Regions from separate parts of the Homo sapiens genome. Here all the other regions are linked to region 4. The links come from fine-mapping of genetic effects on gene expression. A gene starts in region 4. Each other region holds a variant in brackets. All regions are shown on one strand. Distances are between the middles of the regions.

Region 1 (7,472 bases), 130 kb before region 4:
CTCAGGCATCTGGGGGAATTCCTTCCTCTGAACACTGGGAACCGATGGAGCACACACAATGTGTTGGGCCCTGGCTAAGCCATTTACATCCCACCTTCACAACAGCTCCTTTTCACCGGCGCTTGCCTTCCACTCTCCACTGTCAGGTGCTAGCTGAAGCTAGCTTACTTCCTCCCAGACGTCCCGCTGACCCCAGCCCCTGGGTCAAGTGCTTTGCACTTCTACAAAGGTTGGCTGTCTCTCCAGCACGTGTTGCACTTTAGTCTGATGAGTTTATTTAATTGTCTTCACCTATGGACCCTCGTTTCTTCAGGCAGCTTGGCTCTCCTTTACATACCTAGCAGAGAGAAGGGGCTGAATGAATGTTTGTCAAATGAATAAATGATGAATGAGAGAGCATTCCTGCATGCAGAGCTTGGTTACAGGGGCACCTAAATGAATAGCCCAGAGCATGCATTGCCCAAGGCTACACTCACTTTAGAGAGAATGTCTGCAAAGATCACTAACCTCACAATCACAAGCAGTTTCCCTTGGAAAATACCAAATGACTACAGGTTATATTCCTTCATATTTCTGCCCTTCCCTTACTGGTAAGATATAGAGAGAGTGGAAACATGGGGGAATTCTGTGCCCTGTGTGGTGAATTTTATGACATAACTGTCTGGAGTCCCTGCAGGTCTTGGGTGTGGTCACTGAAGTCAGGAAAGAGGGTCCATTGGATAACATCACCCAGCAAGTGAACCCTGAGAGGGTGTGTGAACCTGCTGGCTGACTTGGGGCCAACGTCAGTGGGGTCAGGGGTCACACTGTCTGTCTCTCAGTGTGTTACCTTCTGTGAGGTTTTAATGAGTGACCTTGGCCTCTCCCAGCCAGAGGTTTCTCCCCATTCATCATCTGGTGGAGATGGCAGCAGTACCAACAAAACTCCAGCTCCCCAAGTGCTACAGAAGCAACTTCTGCATCCTCTCAGGGCGCTGGGAAGACGTCCAGCAGTCATCGTTACAGAGGAAGATGGATGTGGCAGGGCTGGGATGGCAGTCCAAGTCTGCAGTTCCAAATGTGTGCTCTTAAGCTTTTTTGAATAAATAATATATTCATGCAATTCAAAATTCAAGCCATTCAAAACAGTAATGAGTAAGCCTTCCTTCCACCCCCTCTCTTAGGCACCCTATTTTCCTCCCAGAAAATGCCGTCATTTTCTTGGGTGTCCCTGCAGAGATATTCTATACAAACAGACATACATATTCTCCCCCCACCAACATACCAACACACCCTGTTCTGCATCTCATTCTTTTTTTTTTTTTTTTTTTTTTTTCGAGACAGAGCCTCACTCTGTTGCCCAGGCAGGAGTGCAGAGGCACAATCACAGCTCACTTCAGCCTCGACAACTCCCGGGCTCAGGTGATCCTCCCACCTCAACCTCCTGAGTAGCTGGGATTACAGGTGTGCACCACCATGCCCATTTAGTTTTTGTATTTTTTGTAGAGACAGTGGTTTACCAAGTTGCCCAGGCTGGTCTTGAACTCCTGGGCTCAAGCTATCCTCCTGCCTCAGCCTCCCAAAGTGTTGGAAGCATCAACACAGGCATGAGCCACATTGCCAGCACATCAACAGTATCTCAGAGTTTGTTCACATCAGTGTGGACTCATCCTTTTCATGGCTGCACACGATCACACTGATGGATTTATCTTCATGAATTTTCCCAGTCCTCTACTCATAGACATTTAAATTGTTTCCAATCTTGGCAAATATCTTTATAAATATTAAGTTGTTTCTAATCTTTACAACGAATGCTCCAAATGAATATGTTTTTACACAGGTCCTTTGACACACATGCATGTATATCTGGACCAAAGCCTCGTATGTGCTAAACCTTGTTGGTTTGCTCATTTTTTTGCCCATTCGTAGATGCAGGCTCTGAGGACACAGAGATGAATAGCACAGCCCCTCCCTGCAGGAGTGTGCACTTGGCAGAGATGGAGAGTGGGCCCAGGGAAGGGCTCTGACCTTGGGTGCTGGGACTCACATAGACCACGCTGTTCTTCATACTGCCCTGTGCCCTCCCCGTCTCTTGCTCTGTGCAGCCATCTTCTGTCCTGTCAGCGTCCTCTTGGGTAGCTTCTGGAAGGCCCGTTCAGAGATGCTAGCAACAGGTGCAGCATGGGGGGGTGCATTCTGTGGATCTCTGTGGGTGCAGTGTGGGAAGGCCCAGGTTGCCTGCCTCTGCTGGCCTCAAGACCCCCCCTTTACCTAAGATCTTGAAAGCAGAGGTGAAAAGTCCACCCAAATCCCACCATCCCTGACTAGAGAGTGGAGGCCCAATTTGGGGGGTACCCTGTGCCCTCAGCTTTAGAGTGTAAAATCAAGAGGAGTCAGAGAAATGAGAATCTGAAAAACAAAAACAAAAATGAAGGGAGGAATACAGATGGAGAAATGGGTCCACCAAAATGTGATGAGGCTACCTCCAGAGAAAATTACCAAGACCATTCTGTTAGTATTTTCCAGCTCCACAGGCCTCTGGAAGTTCCCAGACACCCTCCTCTTTGCAAGTAAGACAGTGATGCTCTTACCAGCACCAAGGCAAGGGGGTCTTAAACTCAGCCAAGTGGGGCAGGGCCAGCCCTTCAGGAGGGCCAACCCTGCAGCCTCTGCCCATTTGGGAAAGACCGTGAGTTGGATTTATGGTCTGGTGTGGCCTTGTCCCACTGACCAGCCCTAGTGATGCAAGGCATGTGAACCCCAAACTTGGGGCTTAGCCTAGGAGGGTTCTTGGCTTTGCAGAGCAAAGAATTCAAGGGTGAGCCAGTAGTGTTAGATAGCATTAGACAGCAACTGTTATTGAGATGGCAA[C/T]GTACAGCAGCAGGAGAGGTACTGCCCCTTGCAGACCATGGCTACCCCATAGGCAGTGTGCCCAGAGTGGCAGCTCAGAGGCAGCTCTGCAGTCATATTTGTCCCCGCTTTTAACTATATGCAAATTAAGTGGTGAGTTCTGCAGAAATTTCTAGAAAAAGAATGTTAACTTCTGGGTCACTGGGTGGTTGCTACAGAAAGAGGTGGTAACTTCTGGGTGTTGCCATGGCAACACTGGTGGGTGTGTCTTATGGAAAGGTGCTTCTGCCCTGACCCTGTTTTAGCTAGTCCTCAATTTGGTCCAGTGTCCAAGCCCTGCCTCCAGAGTTGAGTCCTGTCTCCTTCCTCACTAAGACAGACAATGTCCCCAGGCTCTAGTCTGGCCCCAGGTTCTCCTCCATACCTAGCATGTCTGTTAGCTAAGGACAATGGCCAGACCCAGTACATCTATGCATTCCATGAGGCGGGGCTTCTGAGTTCTGGGTCTCTGTCTTCTGAGACTAATGTGCTTCTGAGGCTGTCCTGGATCCTCACTCGGGAAAGGCAGCCAGGCTGTGGCTTGCCTGGGCAGAGTCCTAGGGGAGAAAGTGGGGGTGGAGATGGGGAAAGGAAGGAGTTGCCCCTGCTGCTGGGGCTCCCATAGGTGAGGGGTGTGGTAGGCAGTCTCTGAGATGACCCCCCGTGACCCCTGGTTGCTGTGGAATTCCCAAGCCCTTGTGAAATCTCCTCCACTCGAGCGTGGGCTGTACCCAGAGACTTGCTGAGAATGAATGGCAGAAGTGATAAGATGTGACTTTGGAGATTAGGTGACTTAAAGACAGGACTTCTATCTTGCTTGTTTTCTCAGCCTCTCTTGAGTACATGCTCTGAAGCATTTGCCATGTTGTGAGCTGCCCTATTGGGAGATTCACATGGCAAGGAACTGGGTGAGGCCACCAGCTCACGGCCAGTGAGAAACTGAGAAACTGAATCCTGCTAGCAACCATGTAAATGAACTTGGAAGTAGATGCTTCCTTAGTCAAGCCTTAGATGAAACTGCAGTCCCAGTTGAAACCTTGATCATATCCTTGAGAGATCTGGAGGCAGAGACACCCAGCTAGGCGGCCCCAAGATTCCTGACTCACAGACACTGTGAGAAAATAAATGTTTGTTGTTTTAAGCTGCTAACTTTTAGAGTGATTTGCTATGCAGCAGGAGATAATGGAAGGGTGTTCCTTTCCCGAATTCTTGGAAGACCAAATCTTATTCATCACTAGTGGCCTTCACCAGAACCCTAATCCTGGTGTCAATCACCCTGGAGCTCCACACATAGAAGTTCCCTTGAAAAGCTGCTAGATAGCAAATCAGCACCTGCAAAGCAGCGCAGCTTCCCTTACAACTTTTGGTTTGGGGTTTGCATTTTAAGCCACTGTTGCTTTCTCTATCTACTGCCCCTCTGTAGGTGAGACATAACATGCCCCATGGGTGGACATACAGACCTGTCGTATGTCAGTTTGGGTCACTCTGGAGGATGACTTCCCATCTCTTTAAGGTATCTCCCCAGGGATCCCCCAAAATGAGTTTTATTCATGTCATATAACTGTTTTCGGTTACACCATCATACCGTCCAAATCCATGAAACCCTTCCAGCATCTTCGTGTAATATGGTGGCTGGCAGGTGGACAAAAGCTTGATTTTATTAATTTGAATTGCATCCTTGGTACTCAGTACAATGCCTGGCACGTAGTAGGCATTCAGGAAGTATTTGTCAAAGCATCAGTTTGCTTAAAATGTTCCAGACAAGGAAAATCTGAGAGTGTAGAAATGAGGGGGTAAGGAGGATAATTCACTACTTGGGAGGCCTGGGGATCCTCCGGTCAGACCCCAGGAACAGAAACGGGGGAAAATCCTGAGACATTCCCTCACCAGACCCATCGAAGTCTGTGGCTACCCTGATAGCAAGAACCTACATGCAATACCAACTTTTACAACAATCTGCACCGTTTTATTATTATTATTACATATTTATATAATTCTATCATTATGTTATTATTATTTACGGTCACTATTTTACTGATGAGGAAACTGAGGCACAGAAAGGCAAGTCACTTGTCCAAGGCCAGACAGTCACTAGGCAGAAGAGTTAGGAGTGGACCCAGGCCAGCTGAGTGAAGTCGGCCTGACTTCCACCCACCATACTGACTCTCAGAACTTAGCAAAAATAGGACTGAGTGTGGTGGCTCATGCCTGTAATCCCATCACTTTGGGAGGCCAAGGTAAGAGGATCCCTTGAGGCCAGGTGTTGAAGAGCAGCCTGGGCAATGTAGCAAGACCCCATCTGTACCAAAAAAAAGAACTTAGCAAAAATACAGTACTTCCGTCACAACTCCCCACGTGGACCCAGACTTGCAAGGACAGGGCATCCCTCAGTCAAGGAAGTCTCTGTGACCAGATGTCCACAGCTTGGATGGAACATGGCAGGAATGAAGGTGAACACAGATGTGGGAGTCGTGAGGGTGGCTGAGCCAGACAAAAACCAAATTGAGGCTTCCCAGAGCTCTCCCCATAGAGGAGGGAACTTCCACACTCAAGAGCAGCAAAAAGAAGCCACTGCAGACAAACCTGGAAAATACCCCATGAAAGGAGGAGGAGGTGGCTAAGGAGCTACCCCATGTATCAGTGAGGGTTTCAGTGAAGGCAGCAGAGACCATGTAGCTAGACAGGAAGGGGTATGTTACCATGTATTAAATGATGCTTCGTGCTGTACTCCTCTCTCCAGTTAACTGAGCCCTGAATCTAAGCCTTGCATAAATATGTCTTATGAGTGCAACCTAAAAGTCACATCTGGCACTCTAGCTGCAAGGAAGTCTGGGGAATGTAATTTTTAGCTTTCTAGCCCCTGCAGTACAGGAATGCATACCAGAAGAAGGTTGGATGAATGCTGAGTGGACCAATTCACGGTATTTCCTGCACATTCCAAGCAATAGTGGAGGTTCTATCTATCCTCCTTTCCAGAATTCCATCAACTCAGCCCAGCTAGCCACACCCACCACCACCCCCATCTTCCCCAGCCCCAGCCTGACTGTCTCAAGAGGAAGGAGCTTCCCTACCCCATCTACCGTAGAGGTGTCTTACCTGTTTTGGCCCAAATATGACCGTGTGGCAACTCTGGGCACACTGCCTATAGGGTAGCCTTGCTCTGCAGGGAGCAGTTGGAAAACAAAAAATTTCTCTCTATATAATTTTTTTAATGTGACCTTGTTTTCCAGGTAAAACTAGTGTTCAGTAATTCTCACTGCCTGCCCCTGAAATGCCAAGGCCAGGCTGGTGGGCTTGGGGTCATTATTATCCTTGTCCCTCACTTTACTTGTCAACATTCCTTTCCTCATCCAACAGGTCCCAGTGGAGAGAGTCTTGGCTCATTTTAGCTCAGAGGATCTCCCTTAATGTCAGTCAGCTTTGGAGAATCTCAGACTTCAGGTTTTTTCCAAGTCTTGTCTCCTGGTGTCCTGATGACCAAATAATGTGAGGAGGGCTATGTCCCTACATTTCTAACCCCCCAAGATGACCTTGATCTCTGTGGATGATAGAAGGAGCCCAGTAACAACTATTTATTTATTTATTATTATTTGAGAGACAGGATCTTACTCTGTCACCCAGGCTGGAGTGCAGTGGTGTAGTCACAGCTCATTGCAGCCTTGACCTCCTGAGCTCAAGTGATCCTCCCACCTCAGCCTCCCAAGTAGTTGGGACTACAGGCATGTGCCACCATGCTTGGCTATTTAAAAAAATTTTTTTTGTAGAGATGGGATCTCGCTACATGGCCCAGGCTGGTCTCGAACTCCTGAGCTCAAGTGATCCTCCCACCTCAGCCTCCTGAAGTGATGAGATTACAGGCGTGAGCCACCACAAAAATCCTTGATTAAGAACCACTCTGACTTTGCCCTGAGGTAGACGCTGGGACAAAGCTGGTTATAACTCGGCGGGTGGCCTCCAGAAGCTTGAAGTTTAGTGGGAGAAGAAGACAAGTAAATAAGCATTCATATTTCAATGGCAAACAGGAAAAAAAAAAGAGCACTCATAAAACTCCATGATGAATTAGCCGGGCGTGGTGGCGGGCGCCTGTAGCCCTAGCTACTCGGGAGGCTGAGGCAGGAGAATGGCGTGAACTCGGGAGGTGGAACTTGCAGTGAGCCATGATCGCACCACTACACTCCAGCCTGGGGGACAGAGTGAGACTCCACCTCAACAAAAAAACACAAAAAAAAACAAAACAAAAAAACCTCCATGAAGAGGCCAGGTGTGGTGGCTCACACCTGTAATCCTTCCCACTTTGAGAGGCTGAGGCAGAAGGATCACTTGAGGCCAGGAATTCAAAACCAGCCTGGGCAACATTGCAAGATCCTGTCTCTACAAAAAAAATTTTTTTAATTAGCTGGGTGTGGTGGTGTGTGCCTGTAGACCCAGCTACTCAGGAGGCTGAGGCGGGAGGATCGCTTGAGCCCAGGAGTTCAAGGCTACAGTGAGCTATGATCCCATCACTGCACTTCAGCCTGGGCAATAAAATGAGACCCTGTCTCTTGAAACTAACTAACAACTCCATGATAAGTATGATGAGAGGAATGGGCATTTTGGGAGCTGGG
Region 2 (7,472 bases), 110 kb before region 4:
AGGTGTGGAGGGTAGAGCCCCTGAGATTTGTAGGACTCACCCTGAGGGCCCCAGGAAGTCCTGAGTGTGGAAAACCCAGGCCACAACACCTTGGGCTGCTCTATGCCATTCCTGGAGCATCTGTGAAGAGCCAAGTGCTTTTACCTGAGTTATCTCCTTAATCCCCTTAATCCAGGTTAATTACAGGTTGGTCCTGTAATATGGGCAAGGAAATTGCAAGATCCTAAAACTTAATGAACTTACTCAAGGCTGGACAGCAGAGAAGCCAGGCTTAACATTTAGGCTGATCTTCAAAGACACTTCAACAGCTGCTTGGGGCTGAAAGAGGGTTTTTGGAAGAGGGCAGGTGCAGAAGGAGAGGGGATCTGGCATCAGAGGAGCAGTGCCAGGAACACGGAAAATAGCAGGACATAAAACACTGGGATTGGTGAGGCCTGTGGCATGTGGACAGTGCATTCTAAAATGTCTTATCAATGCTCTGGGAAAAAGAAAAGCCAAAACAGCCTATCAGAAGGGGATATTATTTGTGTCCCTATTTTTCATTTCTTTAAATAAAATGGAAAAATGCTCTTAAGCAAATAAAACAAGATTACAAGTCATGTTTGGCAGGCAACTTTAAAACCCTAGGATTAGATCTTAGATGTGGGGAAGTAGTTTAAGACCTTGATGCCTGAAGCAGTGTCAACATTACCAAAAGATTATTCTAAATGTGCAATCTCATCAAGATTCATCTCATCAGGCCCCATCAAGATCTAATGAATGAGAATCCACATTTTAACAAGATCCTTGGATGATTTTTGCACACACAAAAGTTTAAGACACTGGCAGGGGCTATTTGTATATAAATGAATACACCTTATATAGTATACAAAAGAGCCTTCCAGGGATGTTCCCCTACCCCCACCTCCCGTATCGTGTAGAAGGTGAGGGAAGGAGGCAAGGCCAAGCTCACCCGCTCGGTTCTTTCTTTCTTTCTTTTTTCTTTCTTTCTTTCTTTCTTTCTTTCTTTCTTTCTTTCTTTCTTTCTTCTTTCTTTCTTTTCTTTCGTTCTTCTTTCTTTCTGACAAGGTCTCACTCTGTCACCCAGGCTGGAGTGTACTGTCATTATCACAGTTCATTGCAGCCTTGACCTCCCAGGCTCAGGCAATCCTCCCACCTCAGCCTTCGGAGTAGCTAGGACTACAGCCGTGTGCCACCATGCCCGGCCTAAATATATAGCTGGGGGGGTCTCATCATGTTGCCCAGGCTGTTCTCGAACTCCTGGGCTCAAGCGATCCTCCCACCTTGGCCTCCCAAAGTGCTGGGACTCTAAGTGTGAGCCACCACGCCTGGCCTGCCATACTCTTTCTTTTTATAGTTTGATTGAATCTTACTAAGAGGTCACCAAGAAAACCTCTGGTAACTCCCTGACCTTCAAGTCTCACCCTCCTACCCACCTCAGCTCACTCCCCGATCCTCCAATCCACAGAGCAGATGGACAAGGAGAGGAAGGATTTTCCTTTCTGGTTCTCTGTTCCTTTGACTAATAAAGTGTGATTCATTGGCTTCTATTTTTAACTTTCTGTCAGTTTGAGTCCTTCCATTTTCTTGACCCAGAGAAGGGAGGGGAAGAGGTGAAAGTGCACGGAACCCCCTTCCAATCCCACAAGGCTTCAAGCCCTGCTGGGAAGACGTAGAGTGTGCGCTTGCAGTCAGTGCGGGGGAAGAGGGGGCGGCCACAGAGGCCTGGCAGAGTGGGGCCTGGAAGCCAGGCGCCTCACGGGGAGGAAGGTTCCAGTAGACTGGATGGGACTGAAGGCGATTTTCCCAGAGCTCTAGAGGACAAACACCCAGCCCCCCTCTAGACTAAGAGCTCCCTCCATAAAGCCAAATCTGACAGGAGTCTGGTAGGGTCTCATCTCCAATTCTCACTAATTCCATGATACTCCAGGACTCGGCCATCCCTCTCAAAGACCGTGGCTCTAGAGTTAGACCTCATGGTTGGAATGCTGGCCTCACTGTTTACCAGCCGCGGGCTCTCAGGCAAGCTGCTCAACCTCCGCCTCCCTGGTTCAGGCGATTCTCCTGCCTCAGCCTCTGGAGTACCTGGGATTACAGGCGCCCGCCGCCACTTCCGGCTAATTTTTGTATTTTTAGTAGAAACGGGGTTTCACCATGTTGGCCAGGCTGATCACGAACTCCTGACCTCAAGTGATCCGCCCGCCTCTGCCTCCCAAACTGCTGAGATTACAGGCGTGAGCCACCGCGCCTGGCCCCTGCTTAGTCTCTTTAAACTTCAATTTTCGTTATGTATAAAGCAGGGATAAAAATACCACTACCTCATAAGGTAGTTGCTAGGCATGAATTAGTACTCTTAAAGCATAGTGCAGTGCCTGGCACCAGCATATGCTCCATAACATTGCTCGCTAGTGTGATTATCATTCGTATTTTCCAACCTAGTCAGTAACAGCCACCCCTGCATTTCCGAGGGTGCCACGGAGAATACAAGCTCCCAGAGCCTCGGCTCGAAGTGCCTTGCTACGCGCGGCCCCTAGAGGGCGCCCAGAACTCACTCGTTCTGGGTTTCTGTGACCAAGTCCCAGGTCCAGCTCCCACTTCTGGGTGGCTGCTGAATCACGGCCGCGGCCTCCAGCTTTTGGGTCTTTTGGCTCTTCTCGCAGCAACCAAAGAAATGTGGGTTCTGGGTCCGTAGGGCATAAAACAGGAGGGGCAGGAGCAGCTCCCACCAAAGCCTTTCCCCAAGGAGGCACACAGTGGCAGGGGGCCCCCCGCACCCCTCACAATCTTCTCGCACACAAGGAGGCCAGATTTCCCCAGGCTTTGGGCAGGCAGTGGCGGCCGCTGGACCTTCTGGGCCTTGCTAGGGTCCTCAGCCAGTATCTAAGGTGGCCGCTGCTATCCCCAAGCTCAGCCTTAGGCACATGGGGTTCCCTTACCACCCGAGCTGCAGGGCTGGAACCTGAAGCCAGCTCCTAAGACAACCCCCACCCCCAGGCCAGCTGGGAATGGAGTTAGATCCTCCTCTGTAGGGGCTGGGGGAGGAGGGAAGGAGAGGAGGGGTGTCCAGGGGTAACCACTTACAGGAGGTGGCCTGGTCAGGTGTGAGCTTGCACCAGCAGTGCAGGCTCTGTGTGTGCCTGGCACAGCACACCTGTAGCTCCCCTCGTGTAACACTGCACACCCTGATTGTTGCATAGTTGAAGGAGGTATGTGAGGTTGTACCCAGCAATGCAGGCTGTGAGTGGGGGCATGTGAATTGTACCCACCCCTCAACAAAATGTAGGTACCCCATCACTCCCTGGAACTCACCCAGCCCTTCCTCACACCCCAACCTGCCACCCCTCACCCCTATCATGCACAGTCTTTGGAGTCTGCTCTGAGCTCCTTGGAAAACCTGACCTGACTCCAGCCTCTGCTCAGCCTGTTCCTATCAGATTCTCCAGGATAAGACATCCAGGTGAGGGTTCCGGGGTGGGAGGGGCCTCCCTGGGCCAACCAGGCCAGAGCTGAATGGGGGCAGAAGGCATTGGATGGGCCCTTTTGAGCCACGCAGGGAACGTGGTGGCAGCTCCTGCCAGTTGCTTGGCAACAGCCTGGCTGTGGAACTTCAAACTCTGAGCTGATCTGGAGGGTCTGGGGGCCCTGGTAGGGAGCAGGACTGGGGGGCTGTGTGGGAGTGACACATAAGTGTGAAAGTGGGCATGAGGGCAGCAGAAGGAGTAAAGCATGAGGGAGGAGGTCTCCTCTGGCACCTGAGCTGAAGGGCCCTCAGGGCAGCCCCAAGGCCGCAGCCTCCCGGTTGCCCTGCAGCCTGGCTGCTGAGTCCCAGCTGCTTCAGCTGGCTAGAGGTCCTTACTTAGTTGTCTCAAGCACCTGAAGCCTACCTTGCCCACCTGCGAGTCACTCGCCCCACAAGCAGGGCACCCATCTGAGTCCTGTGCCCAGGGCAAACCCCACAACTGCCTGGTAGTGGAGCCACGACAGGGCAGTCAGTGCTCAGGAGGTGCCACACAGCCCCCAAGCACAGATGCGGCCACACAAAGCCGCTATTATAGTTAACAGGTTGAGCCAGATTCTCTGTGTGCCACCCACCGCACTGCACAGGGCCTCTAGGACCCCATCCCTGCCTGGGTTCCTGGGGCCCCTCAGGCCGCCACCCACTCAACCAGAGGGCCAGATCTGAGGGGCAGGGCTCGCTGGCCGCAGGAATTTGGTGATTGCCGTCGGTTCTGAAGCCAAAGAAGGAAGCAGACCTCTC[C/T]GCGCAGGCAGGTTTGTTAATTCCCCTTCTCTCCCGGCACCTCTGCGAACAATTATTCCGATCGTTCTTTTTCTATTTTTGAACAGAGACGGGTCATTTCCGGCAGGGGAGGTAGAGGGAGAGTTTCGAGCTTTCTGTTGTGAGTAGTTGGCCTTGACTGTGACCCTCGCAGCCCCCCTCCCCTCCAGCCTCCGCCCCACTTGGGACGGAGTTTGCGGGTCCAGCCGCCACACCGGCCTTTCTCCCTGGCCGCGGCGCTCGGCGGACGCGGGATCCGCTGAGATTCCGTCTCAACGAATTCCGGGCGGAGAGGCGGGAGTCCTGCGTGTCCCGCCGCGCCGCGGGTCCCAGCGTCCCCAGGAGTCTGGCATCCCCGGGAGGCCTAGCCCAAGGGCAGGAGAGTCAGCGGGGCCCTACTGAAAGTGCACGACCCGGGCAGCCGGCGGCCGAACAGCTCCGGGAGCAGGCGAGCGGTATCCGGGAAGCTCAAAGGCCGCCCCCCGGACGCCCCAGGCCCCAGCGCTGGGATTGTACCTACCTGCGGAATGTCCTCTTCTGCATGAGTCCGCGTCGAGCTGGGCAGGGTCCGAGAGCTGCCGGGCTGAGGGCTCCGGCCTGCATGTGCTCTCCGCGGTTAGTGAGTGTGAGCCCTGTGATGTTCCTGAAGATGGGGGCTGGGGGGGAGGGAGGGTAGGAGGTGTTTTGGGGGACAGGGGTGTTGGGCCTAACTGTGCTCAAGAGAGGATGGGAGCGGGGGTGGAGAGCCCAGGCTTGGGAGCCAGCTTGGGGCTGCTGTGTTTGGGCCGGCCAGCCGCTCCCCACCTAACCCCTGTTCCTCTGTTAGGCAATCTGTGTCCAGAAAATGCTCGGAGTTCTCCGGACACAGCAGCCTCTAGAGGCGGTCTTGGGGAATTGGGAGGCGGGAAGAAGGCCACAGTCTCCCCTGGGGTCCTGCTGTGTGATCTGCGCCGGCCGGGAAGCATTGATCTTGAGTCCAAAAGAGGAGAGAAATCGCACCCCGAGAAGAAGGCGCGAGCTCGGTGGCTCCAGTCCTGCGGGAGCAGAGGGGACAGCAGACCTGCCCAGGTAGAGGGAGACGACTTCTGAGGTGCTGGAGGCTATTTCTGGATTTTGCGCGGCCTGGCGCTGGGTGCCACAGCCGGTGAATGCGGGAGACCTGCAGCAGACCCGGCGCTGCCGCCAGAACCTGCTCACTACGCTCCACACAGCTCGTCAGGGCCCAACCTGAGCACTCCGCGGGCCTGCGGGGATGGGGCGGAAAGGCTGGCTGCTGTCTTCGGACCCTGAACCCTCCCCTCTTTTTCTCTTTTCTTCATGTCTACACAAAGTGAGTGACAGAAGCCCCCTCTTATGCGGATATCCCAGGGGACCCCAGATGAGGGGGTGGATGACCAAGCCCACCCTCCACTCAGCCGAACTTCCCCATGGGCTTGCTGGGGTGGGAAGTTGCTGTGCTCACGACCTGTGTCACAGCCCTCATGGCTGCCGGGCAGGGGCAGGGTTGGGGGACAGTGGTTCTGACAGTTAGGGTGGCTCCCCACCCTCAGTATCCCGCAAACACTTCTGCAGAGCTTCCAGTGACCCCCACACCACGAACTTCCACTTTCAGCTGAAAAGTTCTCTCACTCTCCCATCCCAGAGAAAAAGCCTCTTACCCCTCCATTTCAACTCACCCCTAGGGTGATGAGTTCTGTAGACCCTCCACCACACAGCTTCTTCCAGAAAAGCAGACCCAAGTCAGTCTTGTCTAGGATAATTCGAATAGGCTGGGGACTGGCTGTTATGCCTGTGTGCATGTGTACTGTGGCTGCAGGTCTGGCAAGGGTGGTCTGGAGGGCTCCTGGAGGTTCCCAGAAAGTCAATTCTTTAGATCTCTCCTAGGCCAGGCTAGTGCTGGGAACTGGTAGGTCCCACTTACAGCACCAGAGAGGATTCTGGCCTTAATTTCTGATTCAATGTGCCCCAGTCTCTGCAGCTTGCTGGGTAAGCGTCTAGAGCCCCAGAACTTCAGCAGATGTTGGTCCCGCCACAATGTATCTGCGTATCGCACAACAGACTCCCACCAACACATACACCATCAGCACACAATTACACACACTCATACAGAACCATACCCACCCACTTGCAGTGATGGTCTCCCACAGTGATCCACACTCCCCACTACCTTTACTCCCCCAATTACATTCTGTCACACACAAGTAAATACAGGGAAAATGCACAGCTCACACATAATTACATCTCACACACAATTACACCCATAAAATTCAAGATGATCCACTTCAGAAGCAGTCACACATTTCACAGAAAAATAGATTTACAAAGAGAAACTAATACATATTCTCCCAAACATCAACACGATTCATACATAATCACAAACAATGGTTGATTACACAATTACCCAAAAAGAAACAGTCACATTCACATACGGTTACACACACACCACTACAAGCCCGTGCATACAATGATAGTTTCGATTTGCAACTTAAGCAGAAACAAGCATTTACACGCAAGAATTGCAAACACAATTATACACTTAAATACCATTATAAATATTCACTATTTGCTCGCATTGCTGATTGCTCACATTATCACAAACACACCACACACACACACACACACACACACACACACACGACTCTCACATCCAAAGAAATCCACATCCTCTCAGGCACTGGTAATCCCAGGAGAGCCTGGCTCTCCCTGCTCTCCTCAACTCTGCCTTCTCTCCATCTGTCCTCTTCCTTTCCTCTCTCCAGAGCCTTAGGGTCCTGCCCCGCAACATGTCTCTCAAGTTCAGGTACCAAGGGCTGCCCCTGAAGCATCAGCTCACACACCAAACCCAAGTAGCTGAAGGACGCTAGGGTCCGCAAGGAGCAGGCAGCCCTGACTCCGGATCCGGAGGCTTTTATTTATTTTTTTCACATAAATTACACAAGCACTTTATAAAATGGTTACACAGAAAACACCTTATAAGTGCATAAATTAACACCCCCCCACCCCTCAAATGGGTTCTGGAGAAATGGGCTGCATTTATGTGAAAACCTGTCTGTGCGTACCTGGATTGGGCTGGGATGTGTGGTGGGGGCCTGGCAGACCAAGTGAGGCTGTTGTAGCTGTTGGCTGTTGTGTGTGGTGTAGTGTGTCACAGTGTGGCCATGACCTTGTGTTTGTGCTGGAGGGAGTGCCATGCTGT
Region 3 (7,472 bases), 65 kb before region 4:
GTTGGGATTACAGGCATGACCCACCATTCCGTGCCTAAACCTGTAATAATGCCTGAGTACCAACCCAGAAATTCTGGTCTGGGGGCAGCCTCAGCATCAGGATCTTTCAAGTCTTCCCTGGGTGATTCCTGTCTGATGTGCAGCCACGGTTGAGAACCACTGTGCTAAGTAGATGATTTCCAAATGTAGGTGCATGGACTAGGTGCCCCAGAATCATTTGAGGAAGCTCAGGGGAGGCTGGGAATGGAAGTGAAACAGGGCTGAAGACCCTGGGATCTTAGTGGGGAATGGCCTTCAGAAGGTCAGAAGGGGAACCTGAAGTGAGAGCCTCCTACTGGGGGGGCCTTCACCTCCCCAGAGGGAGGAGGCAGCAGAAGCCACAGCATGCTGGGCTGGGGTGAGATAGAGGAGAATCCCCTCAGATCCAGAGGAGAATAATGAGTGCTGATGGGCTGGTGCCGGTGGGGCAGGGCAGCCTTGGGTCAAACATGTGAAGCTGGAGTAGACAGGTATGGCACCACACCTGCTCACTCTCACCATCCCTAACCAGTCCTCCTGAGCCTGGACCTCTGGCCATGTAGCCTGCAGCTCTGGGACACCACCCACCCCAGCTTGGCACTTGGCTGGGGCCTGAGCATGTTGTGGGGGTGCAAGTGGGGGAGAGAGGCAGAGGATGGAGATTGCTTATTGACCTTCCCAGGGACCTACATTTGACAGATGACAAAGTGCTCCACCCACACCTGCACCTCGTCCTCATGATTACCCTGTGAGACAGTTTCCTCCCCATTTGCAGGTAGCGACATGTAGACTCAGAGAAGTCATGTGCTCAAAGCCACAGAGCTGGTCAACAGCAGAGCAGACGTTGGCCGTTGGAGTTCTGGGATTTTTCCTCTAAGAGACAGCAACTGTCTTTCCCATGCGTGTTTGTGCGCTCACACAATCATACACTTGTAAGCAGTCACACCCCACATGGTCACACTAGTGCACTGCTCTGTCATACTCATTATTTCAAAGACCCACATGTTTACACTCTCATACTCAGCCTGGACCCCACCTCACAGGCACACACCCACACACAGCCACAGACGAGCACACTCCCAATCTCCAGCGTGCACACTCACAAAGACACAAATGTGCCCATACTCACCCTAATGAGCCCCTGGTGGCCCTCCCTCCTTCCAGAGCTCACGTGCCCTGCCCCTTCCTCACTGTGTGTGTGCATGTGCATGGCAGGGATAGGAAGCAGCTGTCTGGCTCCAATAGTCCACCTCCCATCCCTCCACCTGCCACATTGTGGCTCCAGCCCCAGGGCAGAGGCTGCCTGTGTTTGGGCAGCAGCCAGGGTTGAATGAGTAAGAGGAACCAGAACAGAGATCAGAATAGAAACCCCACCCTCATCCAGACCCTCCTCAAGAACTCAGAGAACCAGAACCCCCCAACTCACATCCTGCAGCAGAGCCAGAGCTGAGCTCTGAGAAAGTTTGCCCTCAGCCGTGTGGACAGGGAGCTGACACATGACCAGGTTCATTTGGGACTGAGACAGCTTCCCTGGGTCTCCAGCAGGACTCTGGGGCCCCCTGAGTGGCCCAAGGGTCTCTTCAACCCTGAGTACTAAAGAGAGAGAGCCCCCTACAGAAGCCATGACCCTGAGCTTTCAAGGGGCTGATGGAGCCAACACAAAGTAAACCCCGCTCTCTACAGCACATCCGAAGCCTGGAGCAAAAACCTTGGGCTCAGAAGTCAGAACTAATTGGGTTTGAATCCAGTTCTGCCACTTGCTAGTGGAGCTAGTGCAGCTTTGGAACATTTACTTAACCTCTCAGCTCCCTCATCTATAAAGTGGGGCTGTTATATCCGTCTGCCTTGTAGGACAGAAAGATCAAATCGCAAAAGCATCTGGCACATCACATGGGAAGTGTTCGATAAATAGGAGCTGTTTTTTGTTTTCCTTGCTATTATCATTATATATATATATATATATATATATATATATATATATATATATATATATATATATATATATATATATATAATTAGAGACAAGGTCTCATTCTGATTTCCAGGCTGGAGTGCCATGGCACAGTCATAGCTCACTGTAGCTTCAACCGCCTGGGCTCAAGTGATCCTCCCCACTCAGCCTCCTGAAGTGCTGGGATTACAGGTGTGAGTCACCGCCCCTGGCCCTATTGTCATTATTTTTATTTTATTTTATTTTTTGAGATGGAGTCTTGCTCTGTCACTCAGGCTAGAATGCAGTGGCACCATCTCAGCTCACTGCAACCTCTGCCTCTCGGGTTCAAGCGATTCTCCCGCTTCAGCCTCCCGAGTAGCTGGGATTACAGGTGCCTGCCACCATGCCTGGCTAATGTTTGTATTTTTAATAGAGATGGGGTTTCACCATGTTGACCAAGCTGGTCTCGAATTCCTGGACTCAAGTGATCCACCCGCCTCGGCTTCCCAAAGTGCTGGGGTTATAGGTGTGAGCCATCGTGCCTGGCCCTGTTATCATTGTTATTAAAGGTGTTCCCAGATGTGATCATTGCAGAGATCAGCCAATGGGCAGATAAGCTGAGGTGGCCATTTGGGAAAAGCAGAAGGCAAGGGTAGGGGCAAAAGCAGGTACTGGGGGAGAATTCAGAGAGGGTGCAGTGAGTAAGAGGGCTCCTTCCCACTAAGGAGAAGCGCAGCTGGAGGGGCTGCTGAGCATGGCCTCTGCTGGGTCTCCTGGTTCCTGCCACAGAGATCAATGGGAGCTGGGGCCTCTCTCTAGTCATGGATGCCTGGCATTCCATCCTCTGATGCTCCAGACGGAAATCAGGGCCCACTCATTAGCAGGCACCACGTCCTGCTTCCCATTGCTCCCTGAGACACCTCGTTGTATTCTCCAGGGACTCCAGGGAGCCTGGAAGGTTTGAATTTTTCTCCCTTGTGGGCAATCAGACTGGGAAATGTGTTCTGCTAATTGACCTAGAGAGGGGAAACCAAAGCACAGCTTGTGCAAAGACCACACTCCAAGTCACAGGGACAATCCAACAGAGCTGGGTCCAGGATCCCTGACTTCTGCTACCATCCTCAGACACTGACCACAAGGTCTGAGAGGGGATTTAAAAAGATCTCAATAGGCCGGCCTGGGTTGAGGAGTCAAGATCTTTGTCCTCTGGAGGTGAGGCCAGACTTAGCCAGCAGCTGGGAAGAAGGAAGGCTTTTACAAGTCACGTCCCCACTGAAAAAAAAAAAAAAGGCTTCTGTTACATGAGACTGGAGAGAAGCTGGGAGACAGAGAGAGAGGTACTAAGACCAAGACACTGTCCCCTCTGTGGCCTGGGCCTACCTGAGGAGGCCAGTTACCCACGAGCCCCTGCTCCCCAGGGCCCTATCACTAGGAGCAGCTCTCATCACCTCCAAGCCCAAGCAGACCCCCCTTTATCAGGCCCCCTGGCACCAGCCTGTCTGAGCCTCCACCACCTCTGACGCCCAGGACGTTTGTTTTGGTATCTGTGGTGGCTGTAGTCAGAGCATAATTGAAGTTGAAACACCCACTTGGACCCCCTGAAGGATAAACAAGCGGGGCTGGGGCAGCCTTGGAACAGATGTGAAGACAGACATGAAGACAGCAGGTCCAGGAAGCCAGGCAAGCTGGCTGGGAAGGGCCAGAGGGCTGGCGGGAAGGGAAGGGGACCAGGCAGGAGGACAGTGAGGAGGCCAAAGGTGTGCCCACTTCCAGGGCGGTGGTGGCAGGGAAGTCAATACTCGGAGGCCAACTAGAAAAACCTCACAACTCACCCATCCTGGTCTGGGGCTGCCCTCAGGAAGCTGATCTAACGAGGGCATGAGCCTGGCTCTAAGGAAGTGTCTCGTACAGAGGTTCTCAGGCTTTAGGAAGCTTGGTAACAATTCAGTTATCTGGACCTCTTCCCCACAGTTTCCAGCTCAGTAGGTCTGAAGTAGGCACAGGACTTGCACTTGGGGAAACACTGGTCTTCATTGATGGGAATGTCTTGACCTTGCCTTCAGGAGATAGGGCCCTGCCTGGGGTTGGGAGTTCCCATCAGAACCCAGAGGGCCTGTTGGGGTCTGGGAGGGGCACTCCAGAATCCCAGCGGATATCTCCAGAGAGCTTAGCGGTGGGATGTACAGCAAGGACACCTAGGCAAGAACTGCCAAGG[A/T]GACACAGAGTTCCAGATGTTTTCCTAGGACTCCCATCTAGGCAGCTGGGGCAAAAGGAGGCCTTCAGAGCCTTGTTCTGCCAGCTTTGCCCTCTAGGCTCAAGGTATTTAAAGGACCGGAGCCCGCATCTTTGCTGGAAAGCAGCTCACTGGCTGGGTAACAAGGCAAATACTCTGCATCCTCTACACCATCCCAGTGCAGGCTCCGCCCTGCCTCAGTAGGTGATGTAAGGTGTGTGGGGAGGGGGTTGTGGAGGGGTGAAGGGCTGGAGGGGCACTCTGGCAAGCCCAGTGTTGCAGCCACAAGTCTCCTGAATCTTAGGACCCATTTGTATCTCTGAGCAGCTCTCCACTCTACATACAGGAGTGGGAGGAGACAGTGGGCCTGTGCGGGGACAGGTGTTCTTGATGGACTGGGTCTAAGCAACTCACAGTGCTGCATGTGTGCAGTGAAACAGATCCTGAGGGCGGGGCTTGCTGGCCCCCAGCTGACCACAGTACACAGTAGCTCCTGTCTTGGCTGCCTCCGAGAGTGCCCCAGCCAAGAGAGAGGGGTTGGGATGCAATGGATCAGAGCCTGGGAAGGACAGCCTGAAAGTCAGGCTGCAGGGGTGTTGGGCCAGGGCCAGGGAAGTCCATCTGGCAGCACCCACACCCTCTGGGGTCCCACTTGCCCACATACACCTGGGCCCCAATTTCCTCTCCTGAGACCATCCCATTTGAGGATGTCACCATGAGTGGTTTGATGTGTGAAGTGGGTCCTGTACTTTGGTCCCCTGAGGCTAAGAGCTCTCCCTGTCAGCAAGACCCCCTCTCCACCCACTCCCCATCACCCTCCGCTGGCGGATTCCCACCTTCCCAAAGGCATTTCCTTACCCAAATGCAGCCTCCCACCTCCCTGAGCTACTGTCCTGGGTATCAGGGCTGCCATCTGGTGGCCATTGCCATAACTACTGCCACCACCTTTTCCTGAGGCTGAGGCCATTTCAGAGGTGTGGCCAGAGAGCAGCACAGACCCCAGGGTAGGACAGGGAGCTGGGAGAGGCAGGTCTTCTGCCCCCGTGGACACGCCCACATCCTGCTTCCGGTGATGGGGAACTCCCAAGAGTTGGCCTTGATTGGCGGGAGAGTCTCTCAGGTGGTGAGCAGGAACTTCCAGGTAAAGGCTGGAAGGCTTTACTCTCCCGGAGCCTTAGGAAGCCCTGGGGCCACCCAACAGCCTCCTCCGCCCCATTCTGCCCTGTCTCTCCTGTCCAGAGCTGGAGAGGCGAGGCCGCAGCCCTGTTTCCTGGAGCTGAAGAGGTCCTATATATGCTCCTGGGGGGACAGATATTCTTGCATGGGGGTCCCCACTCCCTATCATCCTCTCAATCCCATGCCTGTGGCTCCATGCCTTGACCCACCAGTGAACACAACTAGGTGGACCCGGAGGTCTGAGGATTCACCTTGGAGATGGGAGGATGGAAGGCCTCATTACAGGATTCCTTCGCAGCCCAGCCACAGTGAATAATTTATGTACAAGGCGGAGAAGACAATAAATCAGCGGCAGTGATTAACATGAGCTATTCTACGCGTGGAAAAGATCTATGGCAGGAGGCTGCCAGGTTGCTGGTGATTAATGCCACTGTTTGCACTAGCTTCTGGGCCTTTATATTCAATTATGGGCCTGGAGTGTGTGTGGGGTCCTGGGATGGCATGGGGGACACTGGGGGCCCAGAAGGGAAGGCTTGATGCCTAGGACCAAGAGTGAGGTGATGACAGGTGGCAGTCTGACCCGTGGGCACCTTTACTGATGAGCAGGTGAAGTTAGTGGGATGGAGCAGTGGCTGTTTCTGTAATGGGAGTCACTTTATCCCTGGGGTCACTTCTAAATACTAGTCAAGGAGGTGCCTTGGTAAGTGGGCACAGGTGGAAGGAGGTATCCTTGGGAAAACCTGACTCTTCCAGAGTCAAGGGTTGGGTTTCTGAATCCCCTGCCTGCCCTGTGCTGCCATGGCCACGCTGCTAGGAGTGCAGGAACATCAGCCAGCCAGCCTGGGGTGGGGTCGGGGTGAGGTCAATGCTGGAAAAATTCCCCCACTGGCAACAGAGCCAGGGAGCCGGGGCCTGTCTCCACACTCTAGGGAGGGATGGCGGCAGGAGGGCGGGCTGGAGAAGAAGGCTCTGGGGTCTCTCTTCCCAGCTGATCCAGGAAGCCCGGGGAGGCCTCCTCCCTGGATTCCCACACTTGGGCCCCTTGTCCTCAGCCAGCTCCAGCTGGCCCCCGTCAATGCAGGGGCTCCAAAGACTAGTGGCGGCTTCGGGGTTAAGCGATTTCCCCCTGCCCAGCCCCCGCCCCAACCCTGGCTCCTGTCAGCTCCTTTCTTGTCTTCCTCCTCCTCCTTCTCTTTGGTGACCTCTGTGCAGTGTGGCTCTGCCTCCCCACAGAACCCCAGGGCTGTCATGAGGCACAGGGTTGGTATGGGGGAGGTGGGCTGACAGCTGGGCTCAGGGACCCTCTAGGCCAGGCTGGACTGAGGGGTGTGGAGAAACCACCCCCGCCTCCCTGCATCCTGGCTGGGAGCCGGCTCTTTCATTCTACCCACAGACCAGTGCTTCGGAATTCCAGTCCATGGTGGGAGGACATGCTGAAGGAAAGGGAGAAGGGAAGCTCAATGCCCTGGCCAGGGTGGGAGAGGGCACAGGAGGGGGCTGGCAGGGGCAGGCCAGAGTTTCTGGCTGAAGAGGGAAATCTCTGGTTCATCTCCCCCACCCCTCCTGCACACCTCAAGGCTTCTCAGGGAGCAGTTCTAAGTCCAATGGTGTGTGTCTGTGTGTGTGAGCCTGTGTATGAGAGTCCATATGTGTCTCTGAAGAGTGTCTGGCCCGTGGCTGTGTGTGTCTGCGTGTCTGAGCACTGCTGGGTCTCATGAGGGCCTGTGTGGGTGGGTGGGTGAACACACAGGCTTGAAGCTGACCCCCTCCCCGGGGCCCAGCTCACAGCCCTGCCTAGCCAGCCTTCCCCCACAGCAGTCTTCCTCAGCCCCTAATCCCCTGTTTGCCTGGCTCATCCCTAGGCTCTTTGGGACTCCATTAATGAGCCCCGGCCACCCCAAGACAAGCCCCGAATTAACTCCACTGCTGACCCTGACATGGACACCTGTAATTAGGCCAGCAGCAGCTGAAGCAGAGAAGCCCCAGGGGCTCCATGGGGTGAGGGCAAGGCTGGGCTGGGACAGGGAGCCTAATGCTCAGGAATGCTCTAAAAGCTGGGCCTGGCTCCAGGGCCTGCCACCCGGCTCACCTCTAATACCGTCCAAAGCCTCC
Region 4 (7,003 bases):
AGCGATTCTGACACAATCTTTCACTCACCCAGTTGGCCCAGACAAGAAGCGCACCTAGTCAAGCTATGCTCTAGCTTAGGGCACTGAAGAAGGGGACGTGGGACAAGACCTGCCTGTAGAATGTGAGCATGCAGCCAGTGATGGTCATGTTCATGGGCACCTGGGCTGACATGCGGCCAATCAGGACCACCTTCTCCCCTGTGTCCGGATGGAAGGCGGAGTCATACACATACTTGGCCCTCCACAGCTGGTCCTCGGTGATCCCTGGGGTCACCACGCCGGCCCTGCAGAAGTTGGCAAGGAGCAGACAGGCTATGCCAGGGGGCAGATCTGCCCTCACAGGCCCCACCTGCCCAGCTCAGGGTAACTCTGGACAGAGAACCAGGAACTTCAGCCCCCAGTCTCAGCATAAGGAAGCTCCTTATCTTTGGGAGAGGGCCAAAGTTTCCCAGAAGTGGAGGCTCCTATTTCTATTTCCCTTATAGCCACACAAAGAGGGGTACCCTTCTGTTTCTGCCAAAATGCTGGGTCAGGGATGATGGTGGTTTCCAGTGGGTCAAAAATGGCTGCAAGCATTGCAAGAGTTTTTCCTCCCAAAGATAAGGGGATTTCCCTCCTATCTTCCTGGGACTCCACTTTGAGCACCTCTATCCTTGCAGAGGGTGACCCCGCAATGGGATAGATCCCTGTAGAGGTTTGTGATGCATAGAGCAGCCCCTCCCATAAATATCAATGCCATCTTCTCAACCCAAATGCCCTAAAATCCTTTGGGTTAAAGCTCTGTGATGCCAACAGACGGGGCTAGAGAGTGAGGGGATTGAGGGACAGGGTCACTGTCAAGCTTGAGGAGGCAGGTACAAAACATATTATATTAATCACAGAAAATGAGATCCTGGCACACAGGGTCAGATTGAGGGGTGGTCACCTGTAGTTCTGCACGATGTTCCGAGAAGCTTCCAGCTGTGCCCCGGACAGCAGCAGATTTCGAGGATCAGTAACAGTGAAAAAGTGCCGGGCTCTGCCCAGGAAAGTACTTTGGTCCCAGCGAGGTTCCTGGATGTTGATGTCTAAAGGCAATTCACCCATTTTCTGCAGGACAGAGATAAGGGTCAGAGCGGGAGTCCAAGGGTCCAAGGGCTCCAGCTAGGGGAAATCTTTGGTGCCCCTGCCCTGGCCCCTGAGCTTATCATCAGTCCCTTCAAGAGCTCAAGGTGACTAGATGTAGGGAAAAGAAAGAGAGATCAGACTGTTACTGTGTCTATGTAGAAAGGAAAGACATAAGAGACTCCATTTTGAAAAAGACCTGTACTTTAAACAATTGCTTTGCTGAGATGTTGTTAATTTGTAGCTTTGCCCCAGCCACTTTGCCCCAGCACTTTGACCCAATCTGGAGCTCACAAAAACATGTGTTGTATAAAATCAAGGTTTAAGGGATCTAGGGATGTGCAGGACGTGCCTTGTTAACAAAATGTTTACAAGCAGTATACTTGGTAAAAGTCATTGCCATTCTCTAGTCTCAATAAACCAGGGGCACAATTAACTGCGGAAAGCCACAGGGACTTCTGCCCTTGAAAGCGGGGTATCGTCCAAGGTTTCTTCCCATGCATAGTCTGAAATATGGCCTCGTGGGATGAGAAAGACCTGACCGTCCCCCAGCTTGACACCCATAAAGGGTCTGTGCTGAGGTGGATTAGTAAAAGAGGAAAGCCTCTTGCAGTTGAGATAGAGGAAGGCCACTGTCTCCTGCTTGCCCCTGGGAACTGAATGTCTCCATATAAAACGCGATTGCACATTTGTTCAATTCTGAGATAGGAGAAAAACCGCCCTATGGTGGGAGGTGAGATATGTTTGCAGTAATGCTGCCTTGTTATTCTTTACTCCGCTGAGATGTTTGGGTGGAGAGAAACATAAATCTGGCTTACATGCACATCTAGGCATAGTACCTTCCCTTGAACCTAATTATGACATAGATTCTTTTGCTCACATGTTTTTTGCTGACCTTCTCCTTATTATCAACCTGCTCTACTACTACATTCCTTTTTGCTGAAATAATGAAAATAATAATCAATAAAAACTGAGGGAACTCAGAGACCGGTGCCGGTGCAGATCCTTGGTATGCTGAACGCCGGTCCCCTGGGCCCACTGTTGTTTCTCTATACTTTGTCTCTGTGTCTTATTTCTTTTCTCAGTCTCTTGTCCCACCCTACTAGAAATACCCACAGGTGTGGAGGGGCAGGCCACCCCTTCAACTAGGTAGGTAAGCAAGGGTGTGGGGAGGAGCTGTTTCCTGGGCAATGTCCCAGCCCAGGGACCTGCAGCCACTGGAGGAGGGGGAAGGGAAGACCAGAAACAGGAAAACAGATCTCCTTGTGCTCTATCCTGGTACAGATTTTCATGAGTGAGGATTTACATATATGTGGTTGACACATAAGCAGCAACAAACATCCCAGCCACGTGTGCTACAGATGCACAAGAATATATAATATATATATTACACACCCATGCTCAGGTGAGCTTTAGGCCCCAGCTGCACTGAGACCTGGATACAAACCCCCAAGGCTGTTTTGGAAAATGGCACAAGACATCCCACACTCCAGTCCCTGATTGGAGGAGAGCAAGGCCTTACTGGCCACCCAGGGCTTATCTGTTCCAGATCTCAATCAGGGGACTCTGATGTCAGCCATGTGTGTGCATGTGGGCACGCACAAGTCCTCTCTACAGACCCATTTTTCTCCAACTCACACTGAATGACCCCAGGCTCTCCCTGGTCCCTGGCCAGGCAGGGCTGGCACAGACACTCATCCACCTCTCTCTGGGCCACTTGCCTCCGGATAAGAGCAGGATTCAGTGGCTGCTCCCTCCACCCAGCACAGAGAGGAAAGCCTGGTGCAGCCATCTGGCTGAGTTGGGCAGAATCCTACAGAATGACTAATCCTCTCCAGCCACACTTCCTCCCGCAGAGGCAGAGACGCCCTCCCCTCACACTCACATACCCACACACAAAGACACTATCATGCACACCCTGCCCAGACATACAGACAGAGTGGAGGTGTCCTGTATACACCGGCCTTCAAACACCTTTACAGGCGCACACTGTGCCCATCTGCAGACACTTGAATGTGTGACTACACACAGCCCCACCCTGACATTCCTCCCCCCAACCTCCCTTGTGCCCTGTGGACTTGGACCTCCACAGAGCCGAGGACATTGACTGCACCAGGACAGACAGTTTCAAGGCAGGCCTCCTTCTCTGACCCCCATTCCAGAACCCCGCCCGCCGGGGAGAGCGAGCACTTACGCTTTCCATCGCTCTCTGAAGCTCTCAGAACCGCCTTCCTCTCTGCCTCCGCTGTCGCCGCCGGGCCCTCCCAGCCATCACGCGGGACGTCACGCGTGACGCCGACCAGCAGGGAGGGGCAGGAGCTTCCCGGCCGCGCCCACCCGGTGGGCACGGGGATTGGCAGAACCTGAGGGCGGTGGGTGTCATTCGAGGCGATGCCCCCAGCCTGGGCCACCTGGACCAGGCCCTAAGCTGCTTCCCAGAGCCAATCCCACCTCGGGGATCAGTTCTGGCCCCCTCCCCAGCCAAAGGGAGGAGGGGCTGGAGCCGCGGGCGCTGCTCCCTTGGTTTACAGTCCCCTGGCGGGCCTCAGCAGACCCCCAGCCCTGCAGCAAGCGGTCTAGGTGCCCAGAGAGAAAGCCCCGGGCGCAGGTGGGCGGTGTGGAGGGGCGGTCCTCTGCTGGCGCGCCGGGAGGGACTCGGGTTACCGCCTGGCTTGTTTACTTGATGGCTGCCTTGGCAATGGCCTTTGGCTTGCTTGTCCCCCTGGGCTCCTACCCCAGTATCCACAAGCTCCTCTTGTAGCAGCGCGGCATTCGCATCACTTCACAGCCCCGTTCCTGTCGTGCCTGTGCCTCTTCTATGTCCCCAGCCCTCTCCCTGCTCCCCCTCTGTAACCCCTAGCTCCACTGTGTCCCTGGTCTCCTTACGCTCCCAACCCCTAGCCCTGCACCCCAGACCGTAGCCCCACCCCTGAGATGTGGAGGGGCAGACGACCCCAGGAACCTCGCGGTCTGCATCCGAGCAAGTGCATCAGAAGGATTCTTAGGATTCTTCCGGTCCTGGGACCAGCTGCCCCACCCTGCGACCATTCCAGAACTGGGTAGCCAGAGACGCCTTCTGACAGAGGAGGAGGATGCAAGTGAAGAAGGCACCCCCTCCGCCACGCACATACTCACAACTCACCCAGCCACCACACAGAGCACGCCTGCAGCAAACTCAGGCTCACGTCCCGCTCTGCCCCGTGACGTCCCTCCACGGAGGCCTCAAGGGTGCCCAGGGAGGGGTGGCAATTCCAGGAGCCCCGGTAGCTGGCTCGGCTCAGAGAAGAGGTGGTTCGAGCCGGAGGGGAACAAGCCAGACCCAAGCCCTAAATTTGCGGAATGAGCTAGGGCGTCAGAACCAGAACTGGGGTGGGTAAAGAACTCCGCTGCCCGGGACCAGGTAACGCTCGGCTGTCCCTGGCGCCTAAGGGAGGTGCCGGAATAGAATGACTGGCGGCCCTACCAGCCAATGGGAGCCCGGGGCGGTGCAGGCCAGCCCAATTCCCGCAGCCTCCGCGCAGCGTGGGTGGGGTTTGCCGGCTGCGGCAGTAGCTCTCGCCTGCGGGTGGTTTGACAAGGCTGGCGGCGCCACACCAGCGACCAGGTGAGGCCGACCAGGCACAAAGGGGTGGGGGGCCTGGAGGGCCGAGTTGATGTTGGGGTGCTTCATTCTAGGTCCCAGAGCTTCTCTGAGGGAACTGGCCCTGGGTTTTGCGCGGGATGTCGTGGGACCCCTCTCCAGCAGATCCTCCCCAAAGCTTGGGAGAGGTTCATGCAGCCTCTTTAGACCCGGAGCCGCAGCCTGGAGCCCGCGGGTGTCTGGGGGTCTTCCTGGGCCTCAGCTGTCTAAGGTCCTGAAGCCCTATCCTCGAGGCCCAGCCCGCCCCACGCAGCCCCCGCCCCACCCCGGGCCACCTCCATGCCCGCATATGCATGAGAGAGGTGATGCCATGAGCTGTCCTGACCTCTCTTTTGTCTCACACCTCTCTAAGCCCCAGGGCCCGCAGTAATCCCAACTCCACTCTCAACCTCTACTGAGGACTGGGGACGGGAGTAGATGACTCAGCCCCGAGCAGGAATGAGGGGTGAAAGGTTCCCACCTGCCTTGTATAAAGTCAGCGAGAGTCCAAGATGGTGCCTGGACGGGGCAGTTCTCTGGCCTAGGGTGAGACAGGAGGGGGGCCTAAGGCATGGGAGGGCAGGATGCTTAAACCAGGGGGAGGGGTGGAAGTTTTAGGGGGCAGCAGGGGAAACATTTACACCCCTCCCTCATCCCTGCTCTCCCTGCCCAGGCCTGGAGCTCACACTTCTGAGAGGCATCGCAAGCGAGGGCCTTCACGTTACTGAGACCCCAGCCCCGCACAGAGGCTCATGGAGCTCGAAGCACGCAGGGCTGGCCTCTCCAGAGCTAGCAGATTCCTTCTGGACCTGTAGGGTGCCGCCCTAGCCCAGCCGCCATGGCGCAGGGTTTCGCAGTGGGCTTCGACCCACTGGGCCTAGGAGACCTGAGCTCCGGCTCTCTGAGCTCCCTCTCCTCCCGAGGCCACCTAGGCAGCGACTCAGGCTCCACCGCAACGCGATACCTGCTAAGGAAGCAACAACGGCTGCTGAACGGGCCCCCCCGCGGAATCCGAGCCTCATCGCCCATGGGACGCGTCATCCTCATCAACTCCCCCATCGAAGGTAGGGGCGGGACCCAGCCACTGGCCTGGGTTGGGGAGGGTGGGGGTAGGGGACAATGGGAACTCAGCAGGAGGAGGCAGAGCCAGTATGATTGGGGGAATTCAAGAGATGGGAGTCACAGGGAGGTGGCAGGCCGCCTGGGAACCCATACACTCTTCCTCACCTGCCCTTGGCCTCTCCTCCAGGCCAATCCTGCAGGGGTCCAGGGTCGTAGAAGGGTCAGAGGAGGGAAAGAAGGCCATGGCAGCAGGGACAGGCATGCGTGTGGTATGCTAGCCCCTGGTGGACAAGGCAGGGGATTGAACTGGCCTCTCTCCCATGGGCTCTGCCCTTCTCCAGATCCATTGTGTGTACTTCTGGGGGATGGGGCAGGATAAAGAAGGACATCCTCCATCAACCAGTCCATTGTGTGACAAGCTCTGTGCTGGGCTGCGAGGAGTCAGTGCCCAAGCGGGTAGACAGAATTCAGGGCTTCCGTGCTGAAGGAGGGGAATGAAGGCAGCACAGCAAATGTTCAGAAGAGGAGGGTTGAGGGTGGAGAGGGAGCTCCATCAGGGAAGGGGAGACCTAAGCTTATGTAGTTGCTTAATGCCGCTTCATGGAGCACAATTCTATACCAGCCCTGGGGAGGTGTTACAAGGGACCTAGAGAGAAATCAGGCTCCCTCTTCACCTTCCAGGAATCTACAGTGTAGCAGGACAGAGCAATAAGAACAGCTGGTGGCAGGGGTGAGCTGTCACCAACAAAGGCTGGAAGTGAAAAGCATGGAGCATGGTAGGTGGGCACTTAGGAGCCAGCCTGGCTGTAGTGACAGATGTGAGGTGACTAACAGCTGATGAGCAAGACAGGACCTAGAATGCCAGGTGCGGAGCCAGGCCCCCTGAGTCTGAGCTTTCTGTGAGCAGGACCAGATAAATATCTCCAGCTCCTCTCCTCTTTCTTAGCCAGCAGAGCTCCCCTGGCTGGATCCCAGACTGGACTGTTCAGGCCCTGCTCCTCCCCCTCTGACCCAGCAGGGCATCTCTCTTCCCCTCCCTAGGCCACTGGAGCAGGGTGGGGCATGTTGCTCAGGGAGCAGGCTTTCCTCCACCAGTGCCCTGGCACGCTCACCCCTGTCATACACCAGTCTATGCTTCACCCTCTGGTGAGCACAGGGCACTGCTGAGGGTCACCACGGTCATTCTGGTGAGGGAGCAGAAGTCCCCAGAGGAGTTAG

Which allele goes with the higher level. Positions count from the first base shown, and alleles are read on the strand shown. Sizes are in standard deviations (SD) of each study's normalised expression. Not every link is listed here.
With allele C in place of T in region 1, the expression in lung of the gene that starts at base 4,547 in region 4 is higher (small effect, 0.16 SD a copy in GTEx).

The links. PIP is the estimated chance that this variant, and not a neighbour inherited with it, causes the effect.
Region 1: its variant is the best candidate, but not a certain one, in a credible set for the expression of SFXN3 in lung (GTEx, PIP 0.64).
Region 2: its variant is the best candidate, but not a certain one, in a credible set for the expression of SFXN3 in sigmoid colon (GTEx, PIP 0.66).
Region 3: its variant is the best candidate, but not a certain one, in a credible set for the expression of SFXN3 in nasal epithelium (TOPMed, PIP 0.51).

What each region holds. Positions count from the first base shown.
Region 1 is chr10:101,154,422-101,161,893 of GRCh38, reverse strand. No RefSeq gene overlaps it. Among named protein-coding and RNA genes, the nearest start is that of LINC01514, 18 kb to the left of the region's middle. The variant C/T (reference allele first, on the strand shown) is at 2,851.
Region 2 is chr10:101,137,485-101,144,956 of GRCh38, reverse strand. TLX1 (T cell leukemia homeobox 1) reads right to left here. Exons shown (of 3, transcript NM_005521.4): 3 at 7,168-7,472. It also overlaps a transcript of TLX1NB not described here. Among named protein-coding and RNA genes, the nearest start is that of TLX1, 9.9 kb to the right of the region's middle. RefSeq lists an enhancer at 1,671-2,475. The variant C/T (reference allele first, on the strand shown) is at 4,259.
Region 3 is chr10:101,093,421-101,100,892 of GRCh38, reverse strand. The region is part of intron 2 of TLX1NB (TLX1 neighbor); the gene reads left to right. Among named protein-coding and RNA genes, the nearest start is that of TLX1NB, 34 kb to the left of the region's middle. RefSeq lists an enhancer at 5,254-5,373. The variant A/T (reference allele first, on the strand shown) is at 4,167.
Region 4 is chr10:101,028,778-101,035,780 of GRCh38, reverse strand. SFXN3 (sideroflexin 3) reads right to left here and starts at 4,547. Exons shown (of 12, transcript NM_030971.6): 1 at 4,247-4,547; 2 at 3,299-3,467; 3 at 926-1,089; 4 at 114-284. The coding sequence starts at 1,086. It overlaps PDZD7 (PDZ domain containing 7), which reads left to right and starts at 4,652. Exons shown (of 17, transcript NM_001195263.2): 1 at 4,652-4,708; 2 at 5,397-5,787. The coding sequence starts at 5,562. RefSeq lists an enhancer at 4,025-4,234.